4 linked regions of the Homo sapiens genome follow. The protein of the gene in region 4 interacts with the protein of the main gene of each other region in a pairwise test. Each region holds a gene or a part of one and is shown on either strand. Other genes may lie near its edges.

Evidence for each region.
Region 1: the proteins of SSX3 (region 4) and CEP63 interact in binary tests that used the Homo sapiens proteins (3 or more experiments, as listed by UniProt).
Region 2: the proteins of SSX3 (region 4) and SSX2IP interact in binary tests that used the Homo sapiens proteins (3 or more experiments, as listed by UniProt).
Region 3: the proteins of SSX3 (region 4) and ZNG1A interact in binary tests that used the Homo sapiens proteins (3 or more experiments, as listed by UniProt).

Annotation. Positions count from the first base shown.
Region 1 is NC_000003.12:134,544,836-134,552,680, forward strand, and holds part of CEP63 (centrosomal protein of 63 kDa), read left to right. Parts: intron 1-750; coding exon 751-984; intron 985-1,313; coding exon 1,314-1,453; intron 1,454-2,499; coding exon 2,500-2,637; intron 2,638-4,226; coding exon 4,227-4,341; intron 4,342-5,227; coding exon 5,228-5,425; intron 5,426-7,090; coding exon 7,091-7,177; intron 7,178-7,845. UniProt on the Homo sapiens protein: Required for normal spindle assembly.
Region 2 is NC_000001.11:84,679,977-84,687,821, reverse strand, and holds part of SSX2IP (afadin- and alpha-actinin-binding protein), read left to right. Parts: intron 1-5,354; exon of another isoform or gene 5,355-5,624; intron 5,625-5,837; exon of another isoform or gene 5,838-5,994; intron 5,995-7,434; exon of another isoform or gene 7,435-7,484; intron 7,485-7,845. UniProt on the Homo sapiens protein: Belongs to an adhesion system, which plays a role in the organization of homotypic, interneuronal and heterotypic cell-cell adherens junctions (AJs).
Region 3 is NC_000009.12:147,436-155,280, reverse strand, and holds part of ZNG1A (zinc-regulated GTPase metalloprotein activator 1A), read left to right. Parts: intron 1-485; coding exon 486-572; intron 573-3,202; coding exon 3,203-3,247; intron 3,248-3,853; exon of another isoform or gene 3,854-3,976; intron 3,977-4,555; coding exon of another isoform or gene 4,556-4,574; exon of another isoform or gene 4,575-7,845. UniProt on the Homo sapiens protein: Zinc chaperone that directly transfers zinc cofactor to target metalloproteins, thereby activating them.
Region 4 is NC_000023.11:48,353,076-48,361,009, reverse strand, and holds the start of SSX3 (protein SSX3), read left to right. Parts: upstream 1-4,306; 5' UTR 4,307-4,376; intron 4,377-5,740; 5' UTR 5,741-5,760; coding exon 5,761-5,829; intron 5,830-6,263; coding exon 6,264-6,378; intron 6,379-6,915; coding exon 6,916-7,011; intron 7,012-7,934. UniProt on the Homo sapiens protein: Could act as a modulator of transcription.

The sequences.
Region 1 (7,845 bases), on a different chromosome or scaffold from region 4:
ATCCATTCTTTTCTATTTATTTATTTATTTGAGACAGGTTCTTACTTTGTCACGCAGGCCGGAGTGCAGTGGTGCGATCTTGGCTCACTGCAACTTCCGCTTCCTGGGTTCATGTGATCCTCCCATGCCACTGTGCTCGGGTAATTTTTGTATTTTATTTGTTTGTTTGTTTGTTTTGAGACAGAGTCTCATTCTGTCACTAGGCTGCAGTGCAGTGGCGCAATCTCGGCTCACTGCAACCTCCAACTCCCTGGTTCAAGTGATTCTCCTGCCTCAGCCTCCCGATCCCGAGTAGCTGGGATTACAGGCACGCGCCACCACGCCCAGCTAATTTTTGTATTTTTAGTAGAGACGGGTTTCACCATGTTGGCAAGGATGGTCTCAATCTCCTGACCTCATGATCCGCCCACCTCAGCCTCTCAAAGTGCGGGATTACAGGCGTGATCCACTGCACCCGGCCAATTTTTGTATTTTTTATAAAGACAGGGTTTCGCCATGTTTCCAGGCTGATCTCGAACTCCTGAGCTCAAGCGATCTGCCTGCCTCAGCCTCCCATAGTGTTAGGATTACAGGCGTGAGCCACCACTCCCAGCCTCTCAATTCTTTCTTACCCCTTCGCAATATATATATATATATTTTAGTGAGCCAATGCTTTATGTTTTTATGGAAATAATAGTTTCATTTTAGTCTTATTCATTGATTATTTTATCATTTCCCTTTTACCTATTGATTGATAGTCTGTGTTTCTAGGCTCAGCTTGTCAATCGGAAACAGAAATTAGAGTCTGTGGAACTTTCTAGCCAATCAGAAATTCAACACTTAAGCAGTAAACTGGAGCGGGCTAATGACACTATCTGTGCCAATGAGTTGGAAATAGAGCGCCTCACCATGAGGGTCAATGACTTGGTTGGAACCAGTATGACTGTCCTACAGGAGCAGCAGCAAAAAGAAGAAAAATTGAGGGAATCTGAAAAACTATTAGAGGTATGTTTTAAAATCACTATAATTGGGGGAAGTGTGTGTATGAGTATTTTAAGAGAGTGTTATTAAGCTAGAACTAGGTTCTACAATCCATACTTTCTTCCCTACTTTATAAATGATGGATCAGATATTGATAGTTTTACTAATATTGTGACTTTATTACAATATTTACAATATTGTAATATTGTTACGTAACTTATAGTCTGACTTCCTGGCTTCTCGTGAAATAGAAAAATTGTAATAATAGCTGGCTTAGAAATTTCTGAGTATTTTGCAGGTTCTGCAGGAATTAAAAAGAAGGAAAATTATAATCATATTTGACTTTTTTGCAGGCTCTGCAGGAAGAAAAGAGAGAATTGAAGGCAGCTCTTCAGTCTCAAGAAAATCTCATACATGAGGCCAGAATACAAAAGGAGAAGTTACAAGAAAAAGTAAAGGCAACTAACACTCAACATGCTGTAGAAGCTATAAGGTAAATTTAATCTTAAATATTATTCATCTTAGCCACTTAATGACTAGGTATTAAGCACTAGGCTTATTTTTATTTTTATTTTTATTTTATTTTCAGATAGTCTCCTGTTGCCCAGACTGGAGTGCAGTGGTGCAATCTCAGCTCACTGCAACCTCAACCTCCGAGGTTCAAGCCATTCTCCAGGCTCAGCCTCCCAAGTAGCTGGGACTACAGGTGCATGCTACCACACCTGGCTAGTTTTTTGTATTTTTAGAGACGGGCATTCATCATGTTGGCTAGGCCGGTCTTAAATTCCTAACCTCAGGTGATCTGCCCACCTCAGCCTCCCAAAGTGCTGGGATTACAGGTGTGAGCTGCCACGCCCATCCAAGCACTAGTTTTCATATTGCATATTCATAATTTTATGTTTGATCATATTGTGGATTTTCTTAATTGGCTTTAACTTCTGAGTTAGGTTTTTAAAGTGTTATAAAATTTTGTGTGGTTAATTTTCTTCTGCCACCAGTTAGGGTCCCTAACAGAGACTCTCATGTTTAGAAAGTTAGAAACCAAGGTCAGTTTGCATGCTTGGTGAAAATCCAAATGTGCAGGGAATTGTCATCCATGTCTCCTGGAGGCCTCACTTTGTTGGTGGAATAAGTTGTGATTAGTAGCTGCTTATCATTAATAGCAGCCAGCCATTGGGCTAGCCCTCTTGCTTGATTTAAGTCTGATGCACACTTTTATTTTTGCCAGAATTCTCCTGTAACTTTTCAGTTTTTTTGGTACAGGGTTTCAAGTGTCACTGAAGTGATTTTGCCATTTTGTCTTTTTCCCTTGAAAAAAGGCCAAATCCCAGTTAAGAAGGGAGTAAATTGCTACTTTTTGAAGTATCAGCATCTCTTGACTCTTTCTTTCCTCTCCCAATATTCTTTTTATAAAGCAGGAGACAAACTTGAAGAGTTCCAAAGAGGTTACCAAAAATGATGGGGAAACACAGACTAGATGAGCATTATTTTTGTTTGCAGAGATAAAGGCGTTAACAATCATCCTATGTCTTTCCATAGGCCACGGGAAGAATCTCTGGCAGAAAAGAAGTACACCTCTCAAGGGCAGGGGGACTTAGACAGTGTGCTCTCCCAGTTGAATTTTACCCATACTAGTGAGGACCTTCTGCAGGCAGAGGTGACTTGTCTTGAAGGCAGGTACATAATTATACACACATTTCAAAAATTTCAAGTTGTTAAAATGAATTTTTGATCATCATATTGTAAATGAATGTAATAGTCATAGTAAAAAAAATAAGATTTTTTTCTAGTATCCACAAATGGCCTAAGTTCTTATTTCTTTTTTTTTTTTTTTGAGACGGAGTCCGCTCTGTCACCCAGACTGGAGTGCAATGGCACAATCTCAGCTCACTGCAACCTCCGCCTCCCGGTTCAATTGATTCTTCTGCCCCAGCCTCCTGAGTAGCTGAGATTACAGGCGTGCACCACCATGCCTGGCTAATTTTTATATTTTTGTAGAGACGGTGTTTCACCATGTTGGCCAGGCTGGTCTTGAACTCCTGACCTCAGGTGATCCACCTGCCTTGGCCTCCCAAAGTGCTGGGATTACAGGCATGAGTCACCGCACCCTGCCCTAAGTTCTTATTTCATTGAGAAGACAGAAGCAATTAAAGGAGAACCTCTTAATCTTTCTGTCATCAAATCTACCAGTCTGCCCATACCTGTGCCTTTCTGCACTTCTAAGACCAACCACTCCACTTGTGTCCTTTTTCTGTAGTTATATCCTTTCTCTTCTGCATCATCAAGTTCTTTCTGTCTGCTGAATCTATCCACTGGTATAAAATACGCTGTAACATCACCCATCTGGGGGAAAAACCATCCCTTAATCCTATGTCTCCGTCAAGTTATTTCCACATTTCTGTACTTCTCTTTAAGACCAAATTCTTCAAAAGAGTTGTCTATACTGACTCTACTTCTTTACCTTTCACCTGTTTAGCAGCCCTTCACTTAGGTTTTCCTCCTTGCCACCTCAGAAGCAGGGTAGGAAGGGGTAACAGTTGACACATGGTGATCCTTTTTGTTCTGCTGTGGTGTTGTTACTTCCTTGGGTGTTAATTGAATCCTGACTAATGCTATACCATACCCACCTAAACACTTGTCATTGTCGTACTTATAGAATTTTTTTTGGTTTTTCATAACCTCTCAACTTTTTGATTGGGAAGAGTGTGATATCTTGTTTTAAACACATGAATCATGATCATTTGTACACTGACATTTTCTGTATGTAAAAGATAAAATTGCTTTTAACATGAACTGTTAACCTTTAGGCAAACAACAAGAGAAATATCATTTTACACTTTTTAGGTTATCTTTAAGTAATACATTTTTTGTTTTTACATTTATTTCTGGTTTTGGAAACCAGTAAGTATTTTCTTACTTTTATCTACATGTTAAATACACAAACATGCATACACACACATATTTTCTGCTTTATTCCTTTTGGAATACTTGGAGTACTTGAGATAGTCTTTGTTATTATTGAAGTATATGTGTACTCTTCCGTTTGACTAAAATTAAGTTTATTATTTTTGACGTTGGGACAACAGTTTACATTTTTATCACAGTTTTTTTATTGATTGGCTTTTTAGTAATATTTTAAATGACTGAGGTGATGTTTAAGATATTGGCTGGATATTTTTTGGATATCAAGAATGTAAATTAGATAGTCCAATTTATAGGTTTCAGGATTTTGGTTTTAAGTATGGGATCTTATTTTTGTCATACAGTTTGGAATCTGTGAGTGCAACGTGTAAACAGCTGAGCCAAGAACTAATGGAAAAATATGAAGAACTGAAGAGGATGGAAGCACATAACAATGAATACAAAGCAGAGATTAAGAAGGTAAAAATCTGCATACCTAGGATTGCAAAATTGTATGTGTTTATGGACAAAGCTGTGGATTGGGAGATTATAGGGGTTATTTTTAATGAGAAAAAAATGTAGTTCAAGGGACCACTTGATATTTAGGAGTGGAAGAGTTTGTGGAATGTGCATAGGGAAAGTGCCTTCTTTCTTTGGCATCGCCCCTGATGCCCAATAAATATTTTTAAGATAATTGAAGGCTGTCCCCTTTGAACTCAAAAACTTTATTTTAAACATGTTTTGATGAAAAGTTTTCTAAAAGACATACACTCTGTTGCTTGCAAAAAAATATGAACTGTCACTTAATATTTTCTTATTGCCTAAAGATAGTATTTATGTATTGTCTCCTGTGCTATGATGTAGTTAGTATCCTTGTCAGCTATTGAGGTATGCAGAGCTGTTTGTGTCTATATGAATGGGCCCTAACTGTCCTATTTGTTTGATTTGTATTTTTTGTTACTTCTTTAAGATTACTTCTAGTTCCTTACTTCCTCTTGTTCTATTTGTTATCCTGTGGACTAAGATACCATATGAGCAAAACTTTTAGATTCACAACTAAAAAAAAGAATGAAGGTCACAAGTACTCTCCTCTAAATTGTGTGCATGGACCTTGATTCTGGTCCTCAGCACTTGAATAACCCATCTCTCCCTGTTTTGAGGTATAATAAATGATTGTAGGTATAACCACCTGACCTTCAGTACAGATATGCAACTTGGTAAATTGCTAATTTTTCTGCAGATTTAATTTAAGAGAAATTTAATGTCTTGAGATAAGGTGAACTTTTATTTTATTAGCTAGTAACATATTATTCTATCTAAATGCTTTCTCTTAACTTTTGGTGCTTTCTTTTCTGCTTCTTTATAGTTGAAAGAACAGATTTTACAGGGTGAACAAAGTTACAGTTCTGCACTAGAAGGAATGAAGATGGAAATCTCCCATCTAACTCAGGAGTTACATCAGCGAGATATCACTATTGCTTCCACCAAAGGTTCTTCCTCAGACATGGAAAAGCGACTCAGAGCAGAGATGCAAAAGGCAGAAGACAAAGCAGTAGAGCATAAGGTGAAGCCTGAACAAAACCTTTTTTAAATTTGAAATTTGTTTTAAAGATGGAGTTGATTAAAGACATAATTTTCATAATATTTAATTCAGTGAATTTTTATTAGATACCTGCTTTGAGCTGAGAGTATGCTGGCTAGCAAAGAGTTTAGTGAGCATGGTGGGGAGGTGAGAGTAGACACAGACAAGTAAAGTGACTGTATCAGTGGTGTATGGTGAGAGTCACTAGAGATCACAAGCAGCCTGAATCTAGACCACTCGCTGCAAAGGCCTTCCAGAAGGTGTGATAGCAAAGCTAAGTTAGGAGCAAGCTGGGTGATGGGGAGGAAAAGTGTTTCAGGCACAGGAAAATACAGAGGTCTCTAAGAGAGAGTAGAAACACGCTTGCTGTGGTTGAAACTAGAGTACAAGTGGGATGAGTGGAAGGTATGAGACTGGAAAGCAGGGACTGGCTGCTGAAGGGCTACGTTAGCCACGTAAAGGAGTTATACTGTGACCTTGAGGTCAGTAGGGAATGGCTGCAAGCAGGAGTAAAATTCAGTGGTCCTTAAATGGAGAATAAGCAGGGAGACAGAGCACCCAGATGCTGTTACAGTGGTAAGATGGTGGCCTGAGCAGTGGGCAAGGGAGGCAGAGGGAAATGGATGAATTCTGGAGATACTGGGCTGGTAAAAATGACTGGGCATTGTATTTGATTGGCAGGGAAGGTGAGGTAGGCAGAGTTAAGGAATGGTGCTCCACAGGATTTAAACTTAGGCAACTGATGGAAAGTGATGCTTTTTAATGAAATAGAGAAAAGACAGGGAGCAAGTTTGGTGAAGGATGATGAATTTGTGTGAAAAGTACACAGACTGGGGAAACTGGTGGAGAGGACATTGGTTTGACACATTTGTTTGGAATAAAGGCTGGAATTTTGTATGGGTAATAGTCAATTCCACAGAAGGCCTGGAGTTGAAGATTAAAATCAGGATTAGGCATTTAGCTGTGGCTGTCCTTTCTTCATGGTGACATTTGAAACCCCCTGAGAGACTTAATGATTATAGTGAGAAAGCATAGCGTAAGAAGAGAAGTGACTCAAACCAAACTTAGGATACTTCTCATTTAGTGTAAAAAAGATGTTGGAATGAAGCTTAAAAAAAGGAGCAGTGAGGAGGGAAATCAGATAGTTTTTGCCAAGCCAAGGAAAGAAGGAATATTTTCAAATGGGAATGGTCAAGCACAAAAGCTGAGGGGAATGAGAACTGAATATAAGTTGTTATTTTGTGAATAAAGTACAATTCCATGTGACGTTGCAGGTAGAAGCCAAATTGGAGGAGGCCAGCACAGGAGAATGGGTAGGGATTTAAGGGGTTCAGTGGATTGAAACTTTGCTGCTTTGTCACCTGATTTATCCTATTAGAATGATATCTTCATCCCATTCATGTTCATTCACCTTAATAACATCTTAAAAATCTTTTTAGAAAGTCCATATATATATATATATATATATATATATATACACACACACACGTACATATATATATGTATATATATATATAAATATGTATATGTATATATATATAAATGAAGAATATGACTTAGCCTAATGAAAATTCCATGTGGAAAAATTTTGTAAGATGCATGTGATTTACATGTTATATTTATTTTTTTCTGTTTTCCCCTTTTCAGGAGATTTTGGATCAGCTGGAGTCACTCAAATTAGAAAATCGTCATCTTTCTGAAATGGTGATGAAATTGGAATTGGGTTTACATGAGGTACATAAATAGAAACTTAAGTTTTTCTACTATCCAAGCCTTCAAAAAAATTACTTTGTAAATATTTACATTATAAAGAGAGAATTAAGATCAACTTAGATCCTTTTGCAGAAATTTTCTCAAAGAAAATGAAGGTAAAACAATACTGGAAGTGAGCAAAATATGACTCTCCACTCCAGCAGCAGGAAGGGTTTTTGTTTGTTTTTTTGAGACGGGGTTTCACTCTTGTTACCCAGGCTGGAGTGCAATGGCGTGATCTTGGCTCACCGCAGCCTCCACCTCCCGGGTTCAAATGATGCTCCTGCCTCAGCCTCCTGAGTAACTGGGATCACAGGCATGCGCCACCACACCTGGCTGATGTTGTATTTTCAGTAGAGGCAGGGTTTCTCCATGTTGGTCAGGCTGGTCTCGAACTCCCAATCTCAGGTGATCTGCCCGCCTCAGCCTCCCAAAGTGCTGGGATTACAGGCATGAGCCACCGTGCTCGGCCAGGAAGGTATTTTTTTATATTATGTATGTGATAAAATTTACCTACAGTCTGTGTTCTTAGTTGGAAGAATGTATATGAAGGACTTAGCATATAGTACATAGTACCTGACACTTAGTAAGTATGCAATACATCCTAGATGGTGGTATTATTATTATTATTATTATTGTTAATGATTATT
Region 2 (7,845 bases), on a different chromosome or scaffold from region 4:
TATTAATAAGGCTGTAGAACAGTGCTGTGAACATTGACCAGTAGGTTACAGGGAACCTTCAGAAGGTTTTATGAAGGGGAATTATATTTTATTTTTACTTTAGAAGGATATTTCCACCAAAATCAGTAATTTGAGTGATCCAAAATGTATTGAGTATAGTGCAAATAATATCTGAAAGACAGTCCCACACAGCAGTTAGACTTGAAGTATATTTTGCTGAAGCCCTCAGAAACTCCAGAAAAGCAGAAATAATTATACAACAAACCTTTCTTAAGTATCTTCTACTTTGAAGACTGGAAGAATAGGGATACAAATTAAATAAGATACTTCCCCATTTTCAAGCAACCTGCAGTTCAGTAGGAGAAATAACACAGTTATAATGCAGTACAGAATCTGGGTGTCAGACATAAAAATGTCAGACTCTAGCAATGTAGGATTCTGAGATGAGAGAAGAAATAGTCTTTCAAATTAGCAAAAATAAGTTTTTAAATAGAAATGAAACTACAAGCAGTTAAACATTCAGAACAATCTTAACTCCAGTTGTTCTCATCTTTTAACTCTTGCTTCACACATATCCTTTTCTCATATTCTCTTGAGTCACATTTTCGGTTTGATCTACCACACTACTAGCTATGTGATCTTGTGCCCTGGTTGTCGCATTTATGAAGGATAATAACAATACCTGCTTCGTAGGGGTGTGATTAGAAAAATAGGTTAGTATCCAGAACAATGCCTGGAAAAATAGCTCATACTTACTGAGCACTTAATATTTCTACTTGATATAAAAATGCTGTAATTGAGTAAGAACAGACTTTAAAGACAGGATTTTTTTTTTGTCATGCTAGATCTATCCATGAGCGTCTAATAAAGCCTCTACATTCAGAGAAACTAACATTCTTTTAAACTGAGATTCTTGAACAAGTGATTTTCCTTTTCTTATTTGGTGATCATCTTTCTGAAGTCTGATTTTCATTTTTACCCCTCAGCTTTGTCATTAAGTCACTAATCACCGAATTCAACACTTTTTAAAATTCAAAACCTGCCCATTCTATGGCATTTGCTGCTGTGTATCACCCTTTCTCTTTAAAAGTCTTCTCCCTTGGCTTTCCTGAAGTCCGTTCCCCTGTCTCTTTGTATCTCTTGTGTCTGGGTCTGCTTCACTCGCTTATGTTGATGTTCTTTGGGGTTTGTTCTCCTGCCCCTTTTTTCTTTATGAATTCATCTATCTAAATGTGCTCGGATGTCTTGTGAGTTCTAGGCCTAGAGTTTATCCCCATGTGAATGTCTCATAAGGGCATCTCCAAACCCAGTAAGCTACACAAAGCTCATTATCTCCACACATTTGCCCAAACCCAGTTTTACTAACTTTACTCCTCTGTTCCCTTTATCTAAATGACACTATTATCTGTCAAGTGCCAAAGACAGGTTTTTATGTGAGAGAGTAGATGCCTCCCTTTTGTGTACTTGTCACCATGTCCTGAATTATTTCTTACCTGTTCTTCACTATCCTCAGTCACTGACTAAGTCAGCCAGCTGGTCCCTGACCATTAATTGCCCAGTTTACTATAATATCTGTCTCAAAGATTTTTTTTTCAGATTATAAAAGTATTGTATGCTTTTTGTAAAAAAATTTTAAAAATTAAGATAAAAAGCAAAAAAGTATTTAAGTTACTTCATGTGTAGTTCTTGGCATACAGTCAGCACTGAGAATATATTTTTGTGCCACGGTGCTACAAATAGAACTTATTTTGCAAGCATTAAGTTTGGAGGAGATTTGTAGAGAAATATTGTTCTAAAAGAATTGTAGGACTAAATAATTTTGAAATCGTATATAGAGCCTAAATAGTGTAAAGTAGATACTTAAAATTCAAGATGGGTTCCAGCCACTGCCTATACTTTTCATTTGCCTGTTAATTGTAATCTGGTTGTGCTTTCCTATCTATTTTATTCTCTATTCTATAGCCTTCGATTTTATTTTCTATTCTATAGCCAAATTTCAGGAATATCCCCCTGCATAGGATCTAGACTATAAAAGCAAGCCAACATCATAGAAATAATCTGTAAGTACAACCCATCATTAGCCATGTTGTTTTATAATGAGGCGATAGGCTCAGAGAATTGATATCATTTGCTCAGCATATTTGTTGAATGTCAGGAGGAAACCAGGCCTGTGAGGCTTTGGAATCATAAATAGCTAGTTTTTAGTCTTTCCAGGTTAAATAGCTGGATTTTATTTCTGTCTTCCAGGTTTGTAACTGTAAGTTACCTAATCTGTTGCCTCAGTTTCTTCCATCAATAAACCAGTGCTATCTTTACTCCTTCCTAGGGCTAGCGTGAGGATTAAGTGATAACAGCTAATGGAGCCCCATCTGGCATGCATTAGGTGCTCTTGAGTTCATCATCAGCTTCTCTCCTACCAGTTTCACATAATTAGCTAGTACAGGAGTTATTAACTTGCCATCCATGGATCCTTTGCAAATGGATGGCTTCATAGATCCTCTGAAACTCTAGCCCAAATTGCCTGTTCTTGTACTTTTAAAGGAAGAGGGTCATTGGCTTTGGGTTTTGGGACCCAAAACATTTTAACCCCTGAGTTGGCAGTAAGGCCAAGGACCCAGGGCTCTTGGTGCCTCCACAGCCAAACTGACTGGGTAGAATTTAGAATTGTTTGAAATATTGGAGGAACATTTTATATATATGTATTTAAAGCATTTTAAAGGACTTCAGGTGTAAAGAATTAGTTTATATTCCTTGGCTCATGACACGTTTGTTTAATTGGTCCATTTATAGTTTTAATAATACAGTAAGTACCACCTAACCCTGTGCATAACCCTGTGGGCCCCTCCATTCCTTTTTCCTCTGTCCCTCACCTGAGGCAGCTATTTACTGAATCCTATATTCATCATTCTCTCGGTGTCTTTTATAGTTTTATTGCATCACATAATTTAAAACTGTATATATTACATGCCCTATCTTCTGAAAATTTTTTCATTTTATAATACTGAAATTTATATTATGTGTCACTGAAGTTTTCTGATTACTGCATAATATTCCATTTTGTGCATATGGCATAATTTATCCATTCTCCTGTTGGTGGTATATGGGTTGTTTCCAGGGTGATACTCTTGTGCTACTCGCTATTGTGAAGAATGCTGCTGTATAGGTGCACACCTCCTGGCATACGTAGGCAAGAGTTTCGATTGGGTTTCACTAGGAGTGGACTTGCTGGGCTGTAGAGTATGTGAATAGGATAAATGAATATTCAGCTGATGAACTGTTTATTTTTCAGAGTTTCCCCCCATCCTCTAAGGTTTAATAAGCTGCTTAGCCAGGCATTCCCTAGGACTGTTATTTTCAGCCTCCATTTAGTGCTTTGGAACACTTTTACATCATTCTTGGAATCCATTTTGTAGGACCCTTAGATAAGAATTCCTTTTTGGTGTTCTCTAATTGAAAGTGCATATAAATAGAATACTAATTTATACTGAACCACATTCTATAGAACACAGCAGTGATTCTCAAACTTTGTCAGAATTACGTGGAGGTTCTCCCACCACTAAAGTTTCTGAATCTGTAGGTCTGTAGTGGCACTTGATAATTTGCATTTTTATTGAGTCAGGTGATGTTGATGCTGCTGGTCCCAGGACCACACGTTGACAACTATAACCAATGATTGAATTTGGGCTAAATCATTGAAAAAACGATGAGTAGATTTATTAATTATGTTTGGTTTCTTTGTTATTTCCAATGCCTTTAGTAGATGCTATTACCATTTCATTATTTGAGGAGTGAAATACCAATAAATAGTAATTTTAAAATTTGATTTGGACTTCTTAGCTGACTTTTAACCTTAAAAGTTGATAGACTTCTAAAAGTGCCTCTTTTTTTTCTTGTTTCTTAATAATCTTCTAAGAATATGATTGCTGCTATTCCTGTGTGTACATTGGAAGAATTTGAAACTGATACACTGTTTGTAAATTGCCATGCTCTTGATTCATACCCTGAATCACCTTTCTCCTTCTCTGAGCTGTTACCAATCAAGATTACGTTGAAAGCCCTTCCAAATTGCAGCATGGCCAAAGTGTTGACTTGTCTATCATACTAAAACAGCAGCAAACCTTACACTAATACATCCTTGAACTTGGACATTCATTCAGCAATCTTGACTGGGCTCCAACCTTGGAGTGAGTGATGATGCCTGTTACCGAAGTGGGGTACAAAGAATATGCTGACAAGCCTGCCAAATGAGAACTCAGTTGTGGTGGGAGAGAAATTTTATTCCTGTTAGATCTGTGCTGTAATACAGTTCATGTTAAGTGTTCTAGAAGCACAGAGAGAAGGGATGGCAGTGCAGGGAAAGCCTGGCAATATATTTGCTAGGTTTTTCAAAATTTTTTTGAATTGCTACATCCAGAATTTAATATTTTGTCTGCTTTTGTGTAGTTCCCATTCCAGTTATTCAATTGGCATAATTATTTGATTATAATTTAGTTTCAGGTGAGGTGGTAAAGAAGAGAATACTTGTTCGGTTTGAAAAAGCAGCTTGAGGGGAGGAAGAGCATTAGGACAAATAACTAATGCATGCGGGGCTTAAAACCTAGATGACGGATTGATAGGTGCAGCAAACCTGCACGTTCTGCACATGTATCCCAAAACTTAAAAAAAAAAAAAGCAGCTTGAATATTGTATCCTTCCCCCTCTCCTGTACTAAAGATAGTAGGGTGTAATGTTAAATGTGCTAGACTACCAGGGTTTGAATTTTGGCTTTGTCATGTTCCAGCTCTGTATCCTAGGTCAAGAAAACTCCAGGCTTCAGTTTCCTTATCTGTAATGGGGGAAAGTATTTGGATCATTGTAAGATTGAATAAGTTCGTACACATAAAATGCTTAGAATTGTTCCAAGTAATTGCTACATGCTTAATAAATTATTTTATTGTTATTAAAATTAGGTAGAATCTCATTTGCTAAACATTGGGTTGTAAAGACAATGTGTGCACATTGTTATAAAAATGTGAAGAAAAGGCAGTGCGTGATGGCTCACACCTGTAATCCCAGCATTTTGGAGGCCAAGGTGGGAGGATCACGAGGTCAGGAATTCGAGACCAGTCTGGCCAACATGGTGAAACCCCATCTCTACTAAAAATACAAAAATTAGCAGGTGCGGTGGCATGCGCCTGTAGTCCCAGCTACTCGGGAGGTCAAGGCAGGAGAATTGCTTGAACCCAGGAAGCAGAGGTTGCAGTGAGCTGAGATCACACCCCACTGCACTCCAGCCTGGGCAACAGAGCAAGACTCCGTCTCAAAAAAAAAAAAAAAAGTGAAGACAAAATAATTTTGATATAAATAGCTGTACTCAGTTCCATATTGGGTCCTATGAGAAATGTAAAAATCAAAAGATAATAGAACTTGAAATTCTTTAAAGGTCATCTAGTTTGACTTCATAATTGAAACCCAAAGAAATTATGACCGGTTCAAGGTTTCTCAGTACATAACAGAAGTGTTGCTGAGAACCATGGCCTCTGATGCTACTCAGTCCAGCGCTCTCTCAGTACCCTGTGCAGCTTCCCTGAAGTGACAGCGCCCTGGAAAACTAACAGTTTAATTGGCAGCCAAGTCCAAAACAGGTGAAAACATTAGCAATAAAAAGTCAGTATATAATGGAATATCAGATGGTGTACATAGATTAAGTCCCTACCGTATTTAACTTTGTGAGCTGCTCTCTTGAAGCGGAAATGCACCTTCTTAGTAATTTCATTCATTGAAGGTTGAAAGATGAAGAGCATTTGTTTTTGAAGAGGGTGTTAATAAAGTCAATTTCCCTCTTTCCTCCTACCAAGGTTGGATTGTTCATTAAGCCAGGGGGAGAGTCCACTTTTGCCAGGTCTGCCAGTACTCCATGGCTTTGCCCTTGATGATAGTTGGGGAAAAGTCTGGCCTCTGTATTTCTGTTCCCTGTCTTCCTGATGGGCCAGATTCCCACAGACATTCCCTCAGGTATGAAGACTGCATTACCCTTGCTCATGGGTATGCGTACATATGTGGAACAGGTGCTAGAAGTGTACCTGATTGGTGGGATTTGTCTAAGTCGAGATTTCCACTCAAGGACAGGGCTGCTACTTTTTGGGATTGAGCTAAGAGTACTTTCACACATTATCTCATTTAATTGTGCTTGAATACTCTGCTGCTAAAAATTTTACAGAATAATACATGCTCCTATAACATTCAAGCTATATAAAGATATGCTATGGAAGAGGTGAAAGCCCTGCTCTTCTACCCCTCCCTGTACCCAAATTATTCCATCCCAAGAAGTGTCATTTGTGACATTTTGTAACTTTTCCAGAACTTTCCCCTAAATATATATAGGTAGTTTGAGTTAACAAAAAATGGTGATCATACTGTTCTAATTAACCTGTAACTTCTTTTTTTGTGCTATACATGCATATGTGCTTTAATCTTTAATAATCCCAGAATAGCCTGGCTGTACCATATGTGTTGGTTTTTAACAGTTTGTCCATGATGGATATTAAGATTGTCTCTAGTTTTTTGCCATTTCAAATAATACTGCAATTCAACAATGTCCTCAATATATATTATGCTTGCTCTCTTATATGCCTAGAAGTATGATTGTTTAGTGGAAAGATTTACACATTTCAAATATTTGTATACTGTTGGAATTGCCCTTTAAAACAACAAACTACTGATCTCTGGTAAAGTGCTATTTCCCTTACATAATTGACTATCTTAAAAAACTGTAGGACATTTGTATAATTTTCTAACCAGTTTTTGCCCAACAAGACTGCTTGCTGTTTTATTTTATGCATTTTTTATCACTCATGCCATTCTACCATTGGTTTTGGTGGTTCAGAATGGTGCTGTTTATCCCCATTTCCTGTGCTTATCATCACCATAATTGCCTTTTAAAAACATAAATTTTTTTTCTTAATATGAAAAACACTTTCATTTATAGAAAATTTGGAAGACACAATAAAATAAAAGTTATATTTTTGTGCATGAAAGTACATAAAGAAAGGAATGAAAGTCCTGCCCTTGCCTTTTCCCTATTTTTTAAGTTGGTTTTTCCTTGCAATTTTTTCTGTCCTTATACCAACTTTTGTGTTTATAGAGCAGAATTTATGCCTGTACATATCTACTGATATTTGTTTTTTTTTCCTGAGGACTAAATAAGCTCATATTAGATATGGTTTTGTAACTTTTTTACATTACTTAACAAAATATCATGGAAGTCTTTCCAAGAGTAAAATAGCTAATAATAGCTAGCATTTATTGAGCACTTACCATGTACCCATGACCTTTTTTTAAGCCCTCTACATGCATAAGTTTATTTAATAAAATTATTAAAGAAATTTGGTAACTAAATTTACTGTTTAACCACATAATTTTTTGAGGTAAACTGCTTTTACTCTCCTTTTGCAGATGAGGAAAGTGAGGCCCAAAGAAGATTTATGTTCAGGACCATTTAGTCTGTAAGTGGAGAAGCCGGGGTTTGGAACCAGATGGTCTGGCTTTGGATTTTAACTCTTTTACTGTACTGTTTCTCATACTGCAGCAATGATCAGTTCAAAGATATATAAGGAATTTAAAGAACAGCATGTAGCTCCCTGCTTTCTAAGCTGAGGATGGCTTTCTAATGGCAGATTTTGGCCAGGAGCTTCATTGAGATTATATCCCTCAACCCAGAGATACACATGAATTATTGTACCATAATTTATGTGTTCACACTATTTTATGCAGTCTGAGCCCAACTGGGAGATAGATTGAGTTCTGTTTTTTCTGGTTCTTAAAGGAGTAGTCGTAGGAGATGCTGCTTCCTGAGCCCCTCACCCA
Region 3 (7,845 bases), on a different chromosome or scaffold from region 4:
GTTTAATACAGTTTTTAGTATTAAGTGAAGTTATTCTATTTCTTTGAAAATTTTGGTAAATATTACAGTATTTTAGTAGGTAAACTCTTCTTCTTTTTACCATATTGGATATCTGAATTTTATGCTTTTCTTCACAAAGAAAATTATGAGTTTAAAATCATCCTTTTGATTGTAAACTTTTTGAGACTTATCTTTGTAGCACAAGAGTAGCAAGTAACAGAACTTAGTAAATACTTTGCGAATGGGTAATGTGAAATCTGAACTTGCATAGTAATGAACACAATTCATCCACATTGAAAAATTAGCGGATTAGGAGTAAACTGAGTCACTCCTATAGAGCACTAGATAATTCTTAACTGATATATTGATCTACATGAGGCGTTTTTATTTATTTTTGATTTGTTAACATTCCTCTTTTGATGTATTAATCTGCATGCGTGTATATTATTTAAAGTTTCTTAACATTTCTCTGTTTGCTATTTTAGACAAGTTGCTTTGGCAGATGCCATTCTCATTAATAAAACAGACCTGGTTCCAGAAGAAGATGTAAAGAAATTAAGAACGACAATTAGGTACGAAATGATAAGTGTGTTAAGTGCCTACAGATCCATGTTGTATACACAGAATATTTTTTACTCTGATTGTTGCCCTGTAGAAACTTAAGGTATAAGGTTGAGCTGCTTCAAGAACGTTAGGGAATCACATATATTGTTGATGGCTAATTGTTATATAAATGGTAATACATAAAATTAGTCCCCAGTGCTTGCAGAATATAGTTCACAGTTAATAGACTGATATTCAGGGTCTTCGCACTCCATCTTTCTTTTCCTGTCTTCTCTTTGACTCTTTCCTAATGTCAGTCTTCCCTAACTTTACCCAGGATGGTTAATTCACTTTCCCATGGATGCATCCTGTCAGTTCCTGTCTTTACTCGTAATGTATTCTCACTCTGCCAATCCCTGAGTTCTTTCTTGTTCTGCTTTTTTTTTTTTTAATTTATTCTATAGAGCCTATTCTGTCTCTCCCCCCTTCCTATGTGAAGTCTTCCCTGACTCAAGTGGTCTCAGTTTTCCCTGAACTCTTGTTGACTTCATCTTCCTTAACTGTCAACCATGCCTTGTCTTCCAGCTTGCTTTAATATCTTCTTTGTCCATAGCCAAGGCTGATCAGCATAGGACAATCAGGACAATATGAATGATGCTCAAATATGTGCTAACAGTCATTTTGCTGACTGTTCTGGAGACTCCCATTCCTTTTGAAAACAAAGATGGGCTTTTCAAATGAGGTTATAGTTCAGGGGCTTTGTTTTGAATTATTTTGTAAGACCTGAACTAATAAAAGCCCTATACAGAGAGACATTCGGTAGCTATTAGTATTGGTTATCTTTAATGTGTACAATGCTTTGAGCGTGATGGCTCAAAATTACTATTCTTAGTATTTATAAGTTCTACTGACATTAGATTTTGAATCTGTCATCTCAGTTCATATAGTATATATTATCAATTGAATCAATAAAGGTAAGGCTCATTAGGAGATTATTTGCCATGATTAATGATTGTGGAAGAAAGAAATTCATATTTTTTCCACATATTTCATCTTATTTTAATAGTAATGTCCTTAAACTTTACTATAAAAAAATATAATGTCTCCACGTGGAGGGTAGGTATTGTTGCGTAGTGTTGAAGATCACAGACCTTGGAATCTGCTTGGGTTCTAATCCTTGGTCTGTTTCTCATTGTCTTCTTAGGGAGCTTATTTACCCTTTTAAAGCCTCCTCTGTAAAAGGCATAATGCCTATCATAAGTTTGCTTTGAGTATTACATGAGACAATGTTGGTAAACTTTGCACAGTGCTGACACATAGTAAGTGCTCTGTTAGCTATTATTATGTAATTTTTTTCTTAGCTTACATAGTAAGTTCAAGGTATAGTAAAAAAGGGAAGAAAGAAAAAGATGGCTGATTTTGAAAAGGAGAAAGTGATGAATGAAGATTGCTTTTACATTTTTTGACACTGGTCTTCTAATCTTGTTTCTCTTCATAAATCTTGTGCACCATTGTGATTGCTAAGAAGAACACAATCTATTTAGCAAATGTTTTTGGCATAAAAGGAATGATAATTATTACTTGACTTTTATATCCTTATAGAGACCTAAGCTAAATCTCTGACACTGACAATATTGACTATTAGCCAGCTTGTTAACAGTACTAGAAATGAATTTGGAAGAAGCAATTTGATAAATTACACACCCTTTTGGCTTTTACCCTCCCTTTATATCAGACTTGTGACTGACTCAGAATGATATTTGGGGAGGTGAAAAAAGGTAAACATGTTTGAGAGGAATTAGCCATCAGACTAGAGTGTATTCAAAAAAGAAGATTTAAGAATTTTGTAAAATAGTGGAGAGACTTGCCTCAGAATCATTATATGTGGGAAGCCTTACCCATGAGAACAAACTTGAACAAGTAGCAAGAATCTTGGGTAAGTAACCCTAAAGACAATTGAATTCATGATAGAGAATTGATGATTGATGATAGGCAATGGAAAAGATAAATAGATGAGGTGTACAGTGTGTTGAAAAGAATTTAACAGGTACTTTTTGGTGCCATACGAAGCCATATTCTATAGTATCAAAAGAGGGAGAACAGGCATAACGGGTAGAGAGCCTAATTAGGTAACTGACGAGGTTATTCTATAAAGGAACCTGGGATGTGTGACTTAGAATTACTGTGAATACTAAGGACAGGCTGGGGGCAAAGCAACTTGCAACTAGGTTTTTATTTTTAGTGTGTATATAGCCATTTCTACCATGTATGCCTGAGGAAAAAAGTGACCACCGTAAAAATTTTGAGTATCTACTCATTTTTAAGAACACTAGGATAACTGACTATTTATGAATGATTTTTTCTAAAGTGAAGTGTCTTTTTATTAACCACAAAGTAGCCCTTAATCTGACAGTTGTGCGAATTTTTGCATATATGTTTTATTAATGTATGAGTGGAATATATGTGATTTATTGTTTGAAGGAAAATCACAATTATTTTTTAAAGCAAGTTTTGTTTTTCTGTTTTTAATTTTTTTCTGGTTCCAGATGTATTTGGGTATGCTTATTTCCTGTTTTAGAAACAATATACTTTGTATACTTTTTTAAAAAGTTAATTTTTACTTTTAAACTTTGTCTTCCTCATTTATTATTTATTTCAGATCCATAAATGGACTAGGACAAATCTTAGAAACACAAAGATCAAGGTACTTTAAAAAAGCTATTCCTATTAATAACAAATCATTTTAGTTATTAATAATAAACATTAAATAATTGACAAATATGCTTGATTCTAATATAAGAAAGATCTAAGTGCATTTAAAAAGAATTGGATCCAAAATGTTGTTTGGAATGCTCTTAATAAGTTAGTTTGGCATATTTGGCTAGTACATTTGCCTGTCTTCAAAACTAAGAATACAAAGCCATGATAACACTGTGTAAGTGTTTGCTTAATGAGGAAGAAAAGACTTCCAAACACTCGAGAGGGTAACTCAGTACAGAAATCTGAAGTATATTGAGGAATCTTAATTTGAAGTGTTTAAATGGCTTTTTAATATTTAAAAAGCCTTCTTAGTGTTTTATAGTTGCCAAAAAATACATGGAGTCTTTACCTTGAAGTTCCTGACAAATTCTTTTATTAAATTTTGACTTTCATTTTCTCTAGGTTCTGTTCCTAAAACATCTGTGAAGTGTATTTCTGTAGATTAAATTCTGTTTTCCATTGAATGTTATCTTAATTTCAGAAAATTTCTGTGCAGGGTTATTTTATTAAGCTCATTTTTTTTTTTTTTTTTTTTTTTTTGGTGAGAAAGGCTCAGCAGCTAATAGACTCAGCAACAGGCAGCCAGGAGCTCTGAGGCTCACAGCTGGCAGTCTAGTTCCACTCAGTCTCTACTGGAGAAATTCTTTCTTTGGAAGTACAGCAGAGGCCTTAGGTGAGTGGCTTGTCTGCTATGGCAGAGATTAGAGGTGCTGCCAGACTGCCATAAGTGTTAGGCAGTAACAGCAGCAGCTGCTTATATGCATGTGAACAGCTGGGGAATTAATTTGGTATGCATTCTCAGGAGCCACTCATCTGCTGGCAGAGGTAGCAGAAGAATGCCCTTAGTGTAAGTCCTCTACAACCATACACCAAATGTGCTCCCTGCATTTCAAATTCCATTGTAGAAAGTCTCTGATAATCTCACTTATACTATGAGCCATTCCTCAGTATCTGTCCTCTTCCTGTTAGTGTTCTACAATTCCTTTCTCCTTAATTTTTCTCCGCTTTACAAAATGTCACACAGACAAGTGCATAATACTTAAACAAGCTTTTAAAAATAATGCTCATAAATAGCTTTGGTTCTGTCATAATATTCGTATTTATAAACATTTTAAGTCAATTCTCTTCTTTTGTTTTCATTTCAGAAATATCCATGTCCTGAATAAAAGTTGTGTCTTGATTAGTTTATTATGTAACAATTTAGTGTGTTTGACATTTCTAACTTTTATTTCTAACATTTGCTTTATTATAGAACAATAAACATGCAGTGATTGATTTTTCTTACTTCAAGTGGATGAGTGAGCAAGTGACTAAAATCTTCTGTGAATTATTCAGTGTATGGTGCTTGCCAGTGCATCTGAGAATCTAGGGACTTTCTGAAATAGTACTTCCTTGCTATGAGGACTGAAGTTGCATTAGAATCCTTTTCAATGAAGATCAGATGTCCTGAGTACAATTCTTACTATTGGGTCCTGAATCTTACATTAAATATTCTCTCAAATTCCTTGAGGCATAGCAACTTGAGCTTACCAGTTTAGAAACTGGAGATTTGGGCTGGGCGCGGTGGCTCACGCCTGTAATCCCAGCACTTTGGGAGGCCAAGGTGGGTGGATCACGAGGTCAGGAGATGGAGACCATCCTGGCTAACACTGTGAAACCCCGTCTCTACTGAAAATACAAAAAATTAGCTGAGCCTGGTGGTGGGCGCCTGTAGTCCCAGCTACTCAGGAGGCTGAGGCAGGAGAATGGCGTGAACCCGGGAGGCGGAGCTTGCAGTGAGCTGAGATCGCACCACTGCACTCCAGCCTGGGTGACAGAGCGAGACTCTGTCTCAAAAAAAAAAAAAAAAAAAAAAACAAAACCGGAGATTTGGTTAACAAAATAGTCAAAGTCACTCTTATAGAAGTTTTGTTTTATTTTTTGTTTAAAATTTTTTTACCATTTTGTAGCTGACAAGTACTGACAATAAACTGCTATAAGCATGTGTAGAAAAAGGCTCACCTTGAGTAGTTAAGAGTAAGGAAAAGGAATAGTGTGTAGCATCGTCTTAGTGGTAAGACTTAAGTTGATTTAGTAGCAAATGGAAGTACTAGTGAACCACATAGATTTCAGAAGTAGGAGTAAAAGGTTAGAAGATGTGTCATTTTAATCTTCTCTAGACTTTTTCTTAATTTTTAGAAATGTAAGTGGACTGAACAGAGGAAAACCAAAACACAGCTGGTCAATAATAAGTTAAATTAATTTGACAAACTGCCTACTATGCATTTCATAGCATTTTAAGGACTATATAAGCAATGGATAAGGCAAAAACTCTGCCTTTAAGGAGATCAGTCATTGGGGGGAAACAGAAGCAAACAAACAAAAAGGCAACATAATAGATATTAATATTAATACAAGAATTTTAAAAGCACAGAGTTCTATAATAATAGGAAAATAGAGGGAATGATTGCTCAACTTTTCTTGAAAAAGAGTCAGGAAAATATTGACCGAGAAGACAGTCATTGACCTGAGTCTTAAAGAATGAATAAGGCTTTTACAGATGGAGTAGGGTAGGGATAACTTTCCAGGTATAAGGAAGATTTTGTATTCCAGGGACCTTTGAATTTTTTAGAATGGCTAGAAAACTTGGTATTATGTAGCACAGAAAAAGTGGTATGACTGAAGAGATAGAGAACTTACCACAAAGGGTCTTGAATGCCATGATACATAGTTTGGATTTTCTTCTGTAGGGAGCAAGGAGTTAGTGAAGGATTTTAAAAGCAACATGCCTCTTGGGAGGTAGATTCAATGTGAGGCTAATCTCCGAGGTATAGGAAATACAGGAAGGAGGAGCAACAGGTCGGGTAGTGGTGGAAGCAGGTTTGGAAAATGTGATTAGTTTTGTAAGCGTTTTTGAGTTTGAAGTGCCACTGGGGAAGGCTTTTGGAAATTTATTTCCAGAGTTCAAGACTGAGCTATCATTGCAGTTTGCTCAGCTATTTACTGAGCTATCTACTGTCAATTTGGATAGTATCTACAGTTTGCATTGTAGATACTGGATACTTGGATTGGCTGGTGCACCCTGTTTGTGAGACTCACTGGAGTTTGAAGAGATGACCACTGGAAAATATCCCTAAGCAGTAGCTGCAATTCCACCCCCACCTTGGAGAGCCAAAACCCTCTTCATTTTCACTCTCCTGTCCTTGGTCTTAGGCTACTTAAAGCAGCCTTTAGACATAGGGAAAAATTGAAAGCCTCTCTTTTAAGAAAAACATTAGGTACTTCTGGAATAGAGAGTTCAAGAAATTAGGAGAAAAATGAACTTTTGAAGCTTTTTCTTTCCCTTTTTTGTTTACTTCATTCTCTTACTCAGTTTTAAAATGCTGGTAATGGTCTTTTTTTTCTTTTTTTTTTTTTCTTGGCGATTTTAATGCTTTGGAAAAGATCTCATGGTTTTATCTCCAAAGGAGGAAATTAATTTGATGCCATGGAAATTAGTTTTCTAGTCGTATGCCTTGAATGAGTGAAGAATTTGTTTTTCATGGTGGTACTAAATTTGGGGAAAGCTATAGAAACTTTCATCTGGAAGCTTACACTTTTCCTCTTTTTTGAAAATTTGGTGAGAGACTTGGATATTTTATTGTTTTCTGTAAAAGAGTGTAATTTGTTGTACAGGTCTAATATTGATCCTTTTTTGGAAGTATGGAAAGAATCTGAGTATAAAGCAGAATTACCTCTGGATGGCATGTATTCTCAAGGACACTGTCACAGTGAAACAGTTTATTTAGAAGCTTGTGTTTCCAAAGTGTTGAATTTGATATTCACAAAATTGGCATGTGTAAACTTTATTAAACTTTAAGCTATTTCCTAAGATGAAGATGACAAACTTGGAGGGAAACTTCATTCATTTGGTTTATTTTTATTTTTATTTTTATTTATTTTTATCTTTTTGAGACAGAATCTCACTCTGGTTTGAGACAGAATCTCACTCTGTCCCCCAAGTTGGAGTGCGGTGGTGCGACCTCGGCTCACTGAAACCTCTGCCTCCTGGGTTCAGGCGATTCTCCTGCTTCACCCTCCGAGTAGCTGGGATTACAGGTGTGCACCACCACACCCAGCTAATTTTTGTATTTTTAGTAGAGACGGTTTCGCCACATTGGCCCGGTTGGTGTCAAACTCCTGGCCTCAAAGTGATCCGCCCACCTTGGCCTCCCAAAGTGGAGCCGCCGTGCCCCTTGTCTGTGACCTGTCAATATAAATATGCTCAGTAGCGGGGGGAGGGGGAGGTGAAAAAGGAAATATGTTTAATATTAAGACTTTGGCCTTTTAGTGTAAACTGATACTCAGAAATTTCTTCATAGAACATTTGCTTCTTTGCTTGATCATTTTTCTAATTCTGTACATCTAAAATGCCCAGAATTTGAGTTGCTGTTATAGTCTACTAACATAGAACTTTGGAGTAATAAGATGGGAATTTGTCTCTCTTTTGCCAAGACAAGCATTCGTAATCTAACACAGTATTGTTGCCACGAGTACGAGTATGTGATAGACTGTTGAGAATAA
Region 4 (7,934 bases):
ACAAATATCAATATCTTGGAGAAATCTCCATGGAATTATGCTGAGTGAAATAAGCCCATAAAACATGATATACTATAAGATTTCACTTGTACAGCATTGTAGAAAAGACAAAATTGTGGAAACGAAAAACAGATTTGTGGTTGCCAGGGATTAGGGATGGCGGATGGGAGGAGAGTATTACTAAAAATGAGTAGCACAAGGGATAGCATTGCGGTGATGAAAATGTACTGTACATTTTTTTTTTCAAGAGGGATTCTCACTCTGTCTCCTAGGCTGTAGTGCAGTGGCACGCTCTCGAGCTCACTGCAACCTCTGCCTCCTGGGTTTGAGCTATTCTCCTGTCTCAGCCTCCCATGTAGCTGGGACTACAGGCGGGTGCCACCATGCCTGGTTAATTTTTGTACTTTTAGTAGAGACGGGGTTTCTCCATGTTGGCCAGGCTGGTCTCAAACTCCTGACCTCAAGTGATCTGCCCACCTCGGCCTCCCAAAATGCTGGGATTACAAGCGTGAACCACTGCACCCGGCCATGTTCTGTCTGTTTTTTTTTCTGAAATACAAGCTTTGTTTAAAATGTAAAGAAATATTAAAAGTAAACTTTTTTTTACAAATTATAATCAAGCACTCAAAACAATTTAGGAATGTTAAACACTAATTCTTAATTCAAAATAATGACATCCATAGACTATATCCTGGTGTTGGTCAATATAAAGTTTACTTAATATTAGTATTTTATAGGCCGGGCACAGTGGCTCACGCCTGTAATCCCAACACTTTGGGAGGATGAGGCGGGCGGATCACGAGGTCAGGAGATCGAGACCATCCTGGCTAACACGATGAAACCCTGTCTCTACTAAAAATACAAAAAATTAGCCAGGCGTTTTGGTGAGCACCTGTAGTCCCAGCCACTCGGAAGGCTGAGGCAGGAGAATGGCGTGAACCCAGGAGGTGGAGCTTGCAGTGAGCGGAGATCGAGCCACTGCACTCCAGCCTGGGTGACAGGGTGAGACTCCGTCTCAAAACAAAAACAAAAACAAAAACAAAACAAAAAAACTAGTATTTTTTATATGCTTAACCATTGATCGTTCCTAAAATTCAATGAAAACAATGATTTGACTTTATAAGGTGAAGCCTTTTATGTAATACGCTAGAGATATCTTTTTCAAATACAAAACCTTTATACCAGCAAGGAAATTATAAAAGCATATATAAAGTATACTGAAGGATGTGATTTAAAGGCTGTCTGTATATACAGATGCATTTCACCTTATAAAGTACACGTGCACATCAAAACACTTTCACTGAATATAGATGCCATTACATTCTCTTAACACTACAAAGCAAATGTCAGGTTCATAAACATTGTCCTATTATGTATCAACTGAAAAAACATATATACACAAAAAGATTTTGAAGACACATGGGAGTGGAATGTGCCTACATTTAGAGCAGAGCTTTTACAGGACCACCTGTCTCCAGCCGGCTCCCAGGAACCACTGAAAACAGCTGCTACCCTCAGAACGGCAAGATGGTCTTGTTAATGATTTCACTGGACTCTCGAATCTCATCCTCCTTGATCACCAGCAGAGGCGAAACCTGATGATGTCACCATGGGTGGGCTTGGCCAGAAGTCCATAATCTCGAAGTCATAGACACACCTCCCAAGCATTACAGTCTATGGTTTCTTTAATAACAATAGCATTTAATAATTATTTTCCTCCCGGGCACAGTGGCTCACGCCTGTAATCCCAACACTTTGGGAGGCTGAGGCGGGTGGATCGCCTGAAGTCAGGAGTTCGAGACCAGCCTGGCCAACGTGGCGAAACCCCGTCTCTACTAAAAATACAAAAATTAGCTGGGCATAGTGGTGCATGCCTGTAATCCCAGCTACTCAGGAGGCTGAGGTAGGAGAATCGCTTGAACCCAGGAGGCAGAGGTTGCAGTGAGCCAAGATTGCACCATTGCACTCCATCCTGGGCAACCAGAGTGAACCTCTGACTCAAATAATAATAATAATAATAATTCTGTTCCTTTTATGGCAGTTACAACATCAGAAGGTAGCTTCATGGGTTCACTTCTCACGATAATACCCATTTTTTTTCTGCATTTTCAGCAAGATTTTCTTGTTCTAAAACCTCAAGGGCTGCGATGGTCACTCAGCAGCCTAGTGGATTGCCACCGTATGTGGACCCATGTTCCCCTGGCTTAATGCTCAGCATTAAGCCATCATCCCACAGCACTGCAGACACAGAGTATCAACCTCCAGAAAGGGCCTTTCCAAGGAGGACTATATCAGGTCTGACATTTTCATGATCAACAGCCAGCCATCTACCAGTTCTGGCCAATCCTATCTGTATTTCATCAGCAATGAACAGAACCAAGCTGGGAGCACGAGATGGGACAAGGGTAAGTTAAAATACCACAAAGCTCCCTGTTCTTACGGAGATTCCGCTGATCTCTCTCTTGCTCTTTCTTTCTTTTTTTTTTTTTTTTCAGTCTTGCTCTGTCGCTCAAGCTGGAGTGCAGTGGTGTGATCTCAGCTCAATGCAACCTCGGCTTCCCAGGTTCAAATCATTGAGTGAGCCCAGGAGGTCAAGACCAACCTGGGAAACATAGCAAAAGGCAGGGTAGTGCATGCCTGTAGTCCCAAGGCCGAGGCGGGAGAATCACTTGAGTCCCGGAGGTAGAGACCAGCCTGGACAACATAGCGAAACTGTCTCTAGTAGAAAAATTAAAAATATTAGTGGGGGCGGGGTGGTGTGAACCTGTAGTCCCGAGGCCAAGGCAGGACGATTGCTTGAGCCTAGGAGGTTGAGGCCAGCCTGGCCAACATAGTGAAACCCCATTTCTACTAACAACAAGAACAACAAAAAAATAGCGTGGGTGGGGTGGCTCACTCCTGTAGTTTTGAGGCCAAGGTGGGAGGATTGCTTGAGCCCAGGAGGTTGATACCAGCCTGGCCAACAAAGCGATAGCCTGCCTCTCCTAAAATAAATAAATAAATAAATAAATAAATAAATGAAAATAAAAATGAGCAGGGCAGAATGGCACACGCCTATAGTCCTGAGGCCAAGATGAAAGCATCATCTGAGCCTAAGAGATTGAGGCCAGCCTGGGCAACATATCGAAACCTGGTTTCTACTAAAACGAAACAAAACAAAACAAAAAATAGCTTGGGCAGGGTGGTGCGTGGCTGCGGTCCTGAGGCAGGAGGATCCCTTGAGCCCAGGAGCTTGATGCCGGCCTGGCCAACATAGGGAAACATGGTTTCTACTAAAAAAAAAAAAAAAAAAAAAAAAAAAATCGTAGGCAGGGTAGTGCATGCCTGTAGTCTCGAGGCCATGGTGGAAGAATGCCTTGAGCCCAGGACGATGAGACCAACCTGGCCAATGAGACCAGCCTGGCCAACATAGCAAAACCTGGTTTCTACTTAAAAAAAAAAAAAAAAAAAAAAGCGTAGGCAGGGTGGTGAATGCCTGTAGTCCCGAGGCCGAGGTGGGAGGATCGCTTGAGCCCAGGACGTCAAGACCAGCCTGGCCAACACAGCAAAACCTTCTCTATTAAAAAATCAAAAAATAAAAAATATTAGTGGGGGTGGGGTGGTTTGCGCCTGTAGTCCCGAGACAGAGGCGGGAGGATTGGCCAAGGCAGATGTAACCAATACCACAATCACATCCCATAAGTAAATACATTTTCCTCTCTCCAGGGCTACAGGTAAAGGATGGTAATTCTGCACACCACACTTAGATTCCCTTTCAAAAATGTAAGCAGAGGTTGGAGGGCCTTGGACTGTTTTTTCAGTGGCAACAGATATAGAAGCCACTGAAGAATGAACTCCACGACTAATTATAGCAAACCTCCGCAAATGTGCTAGTTTGGAAAACATTGTGGCTTTCAAGTAGAAAAATCACAGATTGACTATTTTTTTCTTCCCACAGTTCAGACTAGAATCCAGATTTTTAACCCAAGATCCAGGAACAGTCTTCAGAGAGATCAAAATCTGACGGCGCCTGAGGACCACCCACTTTTTCGCAGTGGCGACAAGGTGTGGCTGGAGGAGGAGACATTATTCTGCAATGTCGCTGCCCAAGGATGATGGACCAATCAGGGCAGTTAGTGAACTCCATCTGGCCAATTAGAAGTCAGAACAGTAGGCGGAACAAGCGAAGCGGATGTGGCTTCTATCAGTCCCGGCTCCAGGGACACAACCTTCTCAAAGTGGGGGTGGAGACTCTAATTTTCCCGCCTAAAGCATCCCCTGGGATTCGCTACTTTAAGTTCAGAGTACGCATGCTCTGATTTTCTCTCTCTTTCGATTCTTCCATACTCAAGAGTACGCACGGTCTGATTTTCTCTTTGGATTCTTCCAAAATCAGAGTAAGAATACACTGATTTTCTTTTTCCATTCTTCCTACCCCTCCCCTCCTCCGTGGTGCATTTGCTATCTAGTTTTAATAAGGAGTGTATATGAGGCAGGCCGCCATCTTAAATCTTTCCTGTCAGTTTCTAACCGCCATCTCAAATCTTTCCTGTCAGTTTCTAACTTTTTCAGGTATGGGATTTTTCCTAGGAACTCTGTAGTAACTTAAGAAATTTGGGCCTGGGGTGGTGGCTTACACTTGTAATCCCTGCACTTTTGGAAGCCACAGCTGGTGGATTGCCTGAACCCAAGAGGCGGAGGTTGCAGTGAGCCATGATCACGCCAGTGCACTCCCGACTGGGCAACAGAGCGAGACCCTGTCTGAAAAAAAAAATCACTCAAATCTTTCCTGCTGGGCTCAAGTGATCTTCTCACCTAGGCCTTGGGACTACAGGCGCGCACCACCCCGCTTCTGCTAAATTTTGTTTGTTTGTTTTTTTTAGTAGAGATGGTTTTGCTACGTTTGTGAGCCTGGTCTCAAGCTCCTGGGCTAAGGCGATCCGCCCACCTTGGCCTTCCAAAGTGCTGGGATGGTACAGGCCTGCTCCACCAACCCCAGCTAACTTTTTGTTTATTTTGTAGACGGGGGTTTTGCTGTGTTTCCCAGCCGGGTCTCGACCTCCTGGGCTCAAGTGACCTGCACGCCTCGGCCTCCCAAAGTGCTGGGATTACAGGCCTGAGCCACTGCGCCTGGCTGATTGCTGCAACTTGAAATGCCCCACATTCTCTCTAAGTGATGGCGGGCTCTTGTAGTCTCAGAAATTCTAGCTCTCTTCGTTCTAATAACTTACAAATCACCCAGTAATAGCCTCTGAACACATTCATATTAGCGATGCTCATTTCTCTTCAGCAGAACAGAACCCCCCATCCCTCTGCCTGATCAGATCCATCACCAAAGAGACCACGTTATCTCTGGGACTAACTTCCCTTCCTTTATTTATTGAGCGGGGGTGTCAGCATGCCCCACTGAATAAAATTACACAGTCATGTCCCTGCCTCCCCAACAAGGGTCCATACATCTTTCAGGGGAAGCCTAGCTCCAGGGAAATTACTAACAACATTAGCCAACCCCCTCCCAAAGACTCAAGGCTGCTTTGCCCATAGGAAACCTGTCATCCCCTATCAATACTTCTCCCAGAGACCCCTGGTTCCTGGTTTTCGTCTGATTTCTCCCCATATCCTTACTCAGGGACAGATAAGCCCCGGATGGAGAAATGCAGCACCTGATTCCAGGTGACTGAGTGGCCGGCCTTCACTGATTTCTCCCTCCACAAGACCAAAGGTCCTGCGGCTGGAAAGTCTCAATCTGTTTCTCTTGCAGGTCAGACTACTCCCTGTGCCATGAACGGAGATGACACCTTTGCAAGGAGACCCACGGTTGGTGCTCAAATACCAGAGAAGATACAAAAGGTGAGGTGACCTAGAGGGAGCAGAGTAGTGACCCAGGGGACAGTGTGGGGTGACCCGGTTTCTGAGGAGGGGAGGACAGAGATACTGGAGACAAGGAGCAGGGTCTCAGGGGAGATCTGGACCCTTGGGAGCCTCCCACCCTCACTCTGTCATCACCTAGCATCCCTGGAGACAAGTCTGTGACCTTGCACTACATTTGGTGACTCTCAGTCCATTCTGGAAGGTGGGAGGAGAGCCAGCCAGCAGCATTAAAGCCCGACAGTGTGGCAGGGGTGAAGCTAGGAAGGTCCCTCATGTTCTGTCAGTTAGCCGTGGCATCAACCAGGAAGGATTATCCCCACTTCCCAGATCCAGCACACAGGAAGCGACTCCAGCTGAATGGCAGACATGCCTAGCTGAGTCCCTGCCATAATTCCTTTTTTTTTTTTTTGTAGGCCTTCGATGATATTGCCAAATACTTCTCTAAGGAAGAGTGGGAAAAGATGAAAGTCTCGGAGAAAATCGTCTATGTGTATATGAAGAGAAAGTATGAGGCCATGACTAAACTAGGTAACAGAAAGTTCTAGGTACAGACAAGTCTGGGGACACATGAGCATCCCTTTTCCTGCTTTGGCTATTTCTTAGGCTGCAGAAAGTACCTCACATTTTCCTTTTGTGTAGGGAAAAATCGCAAGGCAGCTTCTGGGTGTTCTGCTCTTCTATATCCTGTCAGGGCTGAGGGCAGTGACTGGCCACAGTGGAGCTCATACCTGGATCCTGCACGTTTCTCTCTCTTAGGCTTCTGTTCTGATGAGCCCAACTGTCTCTGTGGCATCCCGGCAACCATCCTACCCCCACCCCACACACACCCACTCTACCTTCTCTCGGCTTGTCTCTTTCTTTTTTTTTTTTTTTTGTTTGAGTCAGTCTGAATCTGTCACCTAGGCTAGAGTGCAGTAGTGCAATCATAGCTTACTGCAGCCTTGAATTCCTGGCCTCAAGCAATCCTCCAGCCTTAGCCTCCCAAAGTGTTGGTACTACAGACATGAGCCACCGTACCAGGCCCAAGCTTGTCTCTTAAGGAATAAACATTTTGCTTCTTTCTAGGTTTCAAGGCCATCCTCCCATCTTTCATGCGTAATAAACGGGTCACAGACTTCCAGGGGAATGATTTTGATAATGACCCTAACCGTGGGAATCAGGGTGAGTAGATGGGAAGGGGCTGGAAAGGGTCTCCTCAAGCCCAATTGCTTTTCAGCTCAGCTACCTGGGAAAGAGCCTCAGGCATTTGTTCCCTCATACACATCGGGGCAGAGTGAAAAAAAAAATTGCATGCAGAAAGTTAACTACAGAGGTCATTCATATAAAATTTTAAAACATGCAAAAGAAGAATATATATTTTTATGGATAATAAGTAAATGGTAAATGTATACAAACATGAATGTGAATAAAAAGCCATCAAACTAAGGTGACTGGCTGTAAGTGGAGGAGGGAGGGAGGGCAGGGATTGCTGAGTGCTGCACAGACAGCTTCAGCTGTGACTTGTTGATAGTGTGTTTTGTTTGTTTTTGTTTTTGAGATGGAGTTTCACTCTTCTCGGCCAGGGTGGAGTGCAATAAGGCAATCTCAGCTCACTCCAACTTTCACCTCCTGGGTTCAAGTGATTCTTCTGCCTCAGCCTCCCGAGTAGCTGGGGTTACACGCACGTGCCCCCACACTCAGCTCATTTTTTAATTTATGGTAGAGACGGGGTTTCACCATGTTGGCCAGGCTGGTCTCAAACTTCCTGACCTCAGGTGATCCACCCGCCTCAGCCTTCCAAACTGCTGGGATTACAAGTGTGAGCTACCACGCCCGGCCTGTTTGCAGTTTTTCTAATATTCTGAATAAATAAATCAGACCTAACTTAGCTGTGGGGTAATGTTGAGATCCGACTGGACTCAATATTATTCCCCATACTTTTCTGTGTGTTTGAAATATTTCTTTTTTAAATGACATGTTGTTCTTCCTAAGCACTGTTAATGTATCAAAGGACAGTTAAGAAAATGTTACAAGTGAAAAAAAAAAAAAAGAAAGAAAGTGTTAAAACTGTAGATCCGCCAAAAACTTCCAGAGGTTGTTTCATT